2 separate regions of the Homo sapiens genome follow, and region 1 is linked to region 2. A link means that fine-mapping ties the variant in region 2 to the expression of a gene that starts in the linked region. Tissue or cell type: whole blood. Region 2 holds a variant in brackets; the other region holds the start of a gene. All regions are shown on one strand. Distances are between the middles of the regions.

Region 1 (2,761 bases), 42 kb after region 2:
ATTGCAAGTAATCTTTTACACTTCTATGTATAAGTGTGTCTTTTCCAAAGGATGTTTCGAAGCACAGCTGGCTACAGAGATTAGCAGCTGAGGGCCCACTTATTCTCCAGTACCAACTCATAGCTCTCACCATCACAAATACACTACAAATCCTAACTTGGAATAAATCTGCTTTAAGAAAATGCTGGAGTAATGAACAAAGTTCAGTGCCATGAATCAGAAACCTAAGCATCAGAGAAGGAGTGGCTGGTCACAACTGTCATAGCCATGTGACTTGGGGCAATCACCGAGCCTTCTGGGTCTGTCTCCTCTTCTGCAAATGAAGGAATTAGGCCAGATGACCTAGGGTCCCTCCAGCCTGAAGTCAAAATGGAAGCAGGCAGCAATGTGTGCTATTTAACCCCCCTTACAGGTAGAACATTGTAGGTTAAAACGTGAAACAAATGAGTAGCCTAAAACAGACTCACATTCACTGTTCATTCAACTAAAAAGCTAAGCACCTGAAGGAAGGCACTACGTTCAGCTCATTTCTGAAACAATCCACTCACTAAGGTTAGTGTGAGCATATCTGTGTATATAGGTGTTGCCCACAGGACACCAAGTCCTATGTGTGAATTCACATCCCGGGGAGCTTTCACAACCACACAGCACACACTCAGCATCCGAAGAAAGACAAACAGCACTAAGAAAATTCAATTTTCATGATGCACACCAGGGAGGCTAAGCCTTTTTCAGTACCCTAATCTTTAAAATGGTGCATCTACCACCTCGATGCCACATTATGCAAATTTACTAAGAATTGTGAGTGAAGAGATTTCAGCCCAATTAAAAAAAGATAAGGTTTTTTTTAAACGTGTCAATTCCAAGAAGATGGCCCAAGAAATAAGCCGTAATTACTCTATCATTATATCAACTCTTTAATCACTTTTTTCCCCTTGCCTCCCAAAAAAAGAACTGAGGGGAAGTGGAATTTAAATAAAAAATGAATAGTCCCTCCAAGAAACCTCCATAGAAGAGGAGTATATCTTCTGACAGAACACATCTGTGTGCCTCTTAAAAAGGATATTCTAAATCTGGAGGGAGTTAGCTTAGATCCCCACCTTCCAGGCCCTGCCATCTGGAATTCTCAGACCCGTAATATCAAACTGTAAGGAAGCCGGGGCTGGATGAGTATCCCCACTCCCCTAACCCCACTCCAACATTCTATGTGCTACCACGCTCCCCTATTTCAACCCAACTGGTTGAACAGGAAACATTCCTAAGATGAGCAGGTAGCCGGTGGAGCTGAACCCAAGTCTCCCCAGCCCATGTCCACTGACACCCTGGTAAGTGGCACCTTCGCTCACCTTCTTCACAAGGTAGCCCTCTCTGATCCGCTTTGGTTCCATGCTGGCTGGACAGGCAGATGCAAAGGTCACTCTCAGGCAACTCCTCTCAGCAGCTGGGCCTCCTCTGCATGCTGAGGTGGCTGTGGGCCGCCTTTTCTACAGCAGGTCGCTTTCACAATTTCCCTTCTGCTGGCGGTCGCATGATCACATCCTCTTCCCCTCACTGGGTTGGAAGATCAGAATAAGGAACTGCAGAGTAAACCACCCATTCCTTGCTAATGCTGGAGACTTATTAAAACCACAGTTGGGTTGAATATTTACCTAAGGGAAATTCTTACTACCATACAGAAAATCCCTCTTTTAAAGAGAAAAAGAAGTGATGAAAGGAAGAGGAAGATGAACAAGAAAAACTTGTTGGTGAAAATTGTCCTGAGTAAGGATTATTCTTGAGATCCTGGAAATGCCCAATAAAAATGCCAAGAAATTCAGAACCATCTGGTTAGCATAACAAAGTTAACTACTAAATGAATGCCTACTTCTCTCTATGCCAAGCCCTGTATCAAGTGTTTCTCAGCCTACTTATTTTAAACTAAATTAGTCTGCACATCGGCCAGGCATGGTAGCTCACGCCTGTACTCCCAGCACTTTGGGAGGCCAAGGCAGATGGATCACCTGGGGTCAGGAGTTCAAGACCAGCCTGGCCAACATGGTGAAACCTTGTCTCTACTAAAAATACAAAAATTAGCCGGGCATGGTGGCGTGTGCCTGTAGTCCCAGCTACTCGGGAGGCTGAGGCAGCAGAATCACTTGAACCTGGGAGGCGGAGGTTGCAGTGAGCCGAGATTGGTCCACTGCACTCCAGCCTGGGCGACAGAGAAAGACTTCATCTCAAAACAAACAACAACAAAAATGAGTCCACACATCAAACCCATAGGGAAAGTATATTATTTTCCTTATCTTAGAGTAAGGAAACTCAGGCTCAGAGAAGAAAAGTTGTCTCAAGTTGACGCTGCAGGTCACAGGGGAAAGCAGAAGAACCAGGGAGGGATGTGCTAGGGTGCCACTGCCTCACATCAGGCATGAGAACAGGTGTTCCACGTTGAGTGCTGATCTCACAGTCAGCCTGTAAAAAGAAGTCCATCATCAAACAGGTTTTTGAGAAACTTTACAAAATAATCCCAGGTTGGCAACTCCTCTAAATGATGAACAAATTAAAGACCTTCGCCCCGCCAAAGTACTACAGTAAAGAATCCTATAATGGTGTTTTCCAAACTTACTTCGCCATAGCATTCTTTTTTGAACAATTTATGTTAACTTTTTTTGTCATAAATTGAATTAGATCTCCCAAAAAAGAAGTCCTAACCCTTAGCACTTCAGAATGCATCCTTATTTGGAAATAGGGTCATTGTAGATATAATTAGTTAAGATGAGGT
Region 2 (2,761 bases):
TTTTCTGCATCTATTGAGATAATTATGTGGTTTTTGTCATTGGTTCTGTTTATGTGATGGATTACATTTATTTATTTGCATATGTTGAACCAGCCTTGCATCGCAGGGATAAAGCCAACTTGATCATGGTGGATAAGATTTTTGATGTGCTGCTGGATTCAGTTTGCCAGTATTTTTTTTGAGGATTTTCAAATTGATGTTCATCAGGGATACTGGCCTAAAATTTTCATTTTTTGTTGTGTCTTTGCCAGGTTTTGGTATCAGGATGATGCTGGCTTCATGAAATGAGTTAGGGAGGATTCCCTCTTTTTCTATTTATTGGAATAGTTTCAGAAGGAATGGTACCAGCTCCTCTTTGTACCTCTGGTAGAATTCAGCTGTGAATCCATCTGGTCCTAGACTTTTTTTGGTTGGTAGGCTATTAATTATTGCCTCAATTACACAACGTGTTATTGGTCTATTCAGAGATTTGACTTCTTCCTGGTTTAGTCTTGGGAGGGTGTATTGGTCCAGGAATTTATCCATTTCTTCCAGATTTTCTAGTTTATTTGCATAGAGGTGTGTACAGTATTCTCTGATTGTAGTTTGTATTTCTGTGGGACCAGTGGTGATATCCCCTTTATCATTTTTTATTGCATCTATTTGAGTCTTCTCTCTTTTCTTCTTTACTAGTCTGGCTAGTTGTCTATCTATTTTGTTGATCTTTTCAAAAAATCACGTCCTGGATTCACTGTCTCTATCTCCTTCAGTTCTGCTCTGATCTTAGTTATTTCTTGCCTTCTGCTAGCTTTTAAATTTGTTTGCTGTTGCTTCTCTAGTTCTTTTAATTGTGATGTTAGGGTGTCAATTTTAGATCTTTCCTGATTTCTCTTGTGGGCATTTAGTGCTATCAATTTTCCTCTAAACACTGCTTTAGCTGTGTCCCAGAGATGTTGATACATTGTGACTTTGTTCTCATTGGTTTCAAATAACTTATTTCTGCCTTCATTTTGTTATTTACCCAGTAGTCATGCAGGAGCAGATTGCTCAGTTTCCATGTAGTTGTGTGGTTTTGAGTGAGTTTCTTAATCCTGAGTTCTAATTTGATTGCACTGTGGTCTGAGCAACTGTTTGTTATCATTTCCATTCTTTTGCATTTGCTGAGGAGTGTTTTCCTTCCAATTATGTGGTCAATTTTAGAATAAGTGTGATGTAGTGCTGACAAGAATGTATATTCTGCTAATTTGGGGTGGAGAGTTCTGTAGATGTCTATTAGGTCTGCTTGGTCCAAAGCTGAGTTCAAGTCCTGGATATCCTTAGTAATTTTCTGTCTCAATATTCTTTCTAATATTGACAGTGGGGTGTTAAAGTCTCCCACTATTATTGTGTGGGAGTCTAAGTCTCTTTGTAGGTCTCTAAGAACTTGCTTTATGAATCTGGGTGCTCCTGTATTGGGTGCATATATATTTAGGACAGTTAGCTCTTCTTGTTGCATTGATCCCTTTACCATTATATAATGCCCTTCTTTTT[C/A]TCTTTTGATCTTTGTTGGTTTAAAGTCTGTTTTATCAGGGACTAGGATTGCAACCACTGCTTTTTATTTTTTCTTTCCATTTGCTTGGTAAATTTTCCTGCATCTCTTTCTTTTGAGCCTATATGTGTCTTTGCAGGTGAGATGGGTCTCCTGAATACAGCACATTGATGGGTCTTGACTCTTTATCCAATTTGCCAGTCTGTGTCTTTAAATTGGGAGCATTTAGCCCATTTACATTTAAGGTTAATATTGTTATGTGTGAATTTGATCCTGTCATTATGATGCTAGCTGATTATTTTCCCATTAGTTATGCACTTTCTTCATAGCATTGATAGTCTTTACAATTTGGCATGTTTTTGCAGTGGCTGGTACCGGTTGTTCCTTTCCATGTTTACATAGTGCTTCCTTCAGGAGCTCTTGTAAGGCAGTCCTGATGGTGACAAAATCTCTAAGCATTTGCTTGTCTGTAAAGGATTTTATTTCTTCTTCTCTTATGAAACTTAGTTTGGCTGGACATGAAATTCTGGGTTGAAAATTCTTTTATTTAAGAATGTCGAATATTGGCCCCCACTCTCTTCTGGCTTGCAGGGTTTCTGCAGAGAGATCAGCTGTTAGTTTGATGGGCTTCCATTTGTGGGTAACCTGACCTTTCTCTCTGGCTGCCCTTAACATTTTTTCCTTCATTTCAACCTTGGTCAATCTGATGATTATATGTCTTGGGGTTGCTCTTCTCAAGGAGTATCTTTGTGGAGGTCTCTGTATTTCCTGAATTTGAATGTTGGCCTGTCTTGCTAGGTTGGGGAAGTTGTCCTGGATAATATCCTGAAGAGTGTTTTCCAATCTGGTTCCATTCTCCCTGTCACTTCCAGGTACACCAATCAAACATAGGTTTGGTCTTTTCACATAGTCCCATATTTCTTGGAGGCTTTGTTCATTCCTTTTCATTCTTTTCTCCCTAATCTTGTCTTCACACTTTATTTCATTAATTTTATCTTTAATCTCTGCTATCCTTTCTTCTGCTTGATCGATTTGGCTATTGATACTTGTGTATGCTTCACAAAGTTCTTGTGCTGTGTTTTTCAGCTCCATCATGTCATTTATTTCTTCTCTAAACTGGTTATTCTAGCTAGCAATTCATCTAACCTTTTTTCAAGGTTCTTAGCTTCCTTGCATTGGGTTAGAACATGCTCCTTTAGCTCGGATGAGTTTGTTATTACCCACCTTCTGAAGCTTGCCTCTGTCAATTCATCA

What was found. PIP is the estimated chance that this variant, and not a neighbour inherited with it, causes the effect.
Region 1: PLEK starts here. The variant in region 2 is fine-mapped to the expression of PLEK in whole blood (INTERVAL, PIP 0.99).

The regions. Positions count from the first base shown.
Region 1 is chr2:68,363,979-68,366,739 of GRCh38, reverse strand. It overlaps PLEK (pleckstrin), which reads right to left and starts at 1,458. Exons shown (of 9, transcript NM_002664.3): 1 at 1,347-1,458. The coding sequence starts at 1,388. LOC101927723 (a long non-coding RNA gene) reads left to right here and starts at 336. Exons shown (of 2, transcript NR_187652.1): 1 at 336-1,325. RefSeq lists an enhancer at 1,419-1,498.
Region 2 is chr2:68,406,349-68,409,109 of GRCh38, reverse strand. No RefSeq gene overlaps it. Among named protein-coding and RNA genes, the nearest start is that of PLEK, 42 kb to the right of the region's middle. The variant C/A (reference allele first, on the strand shown) is at 1,510.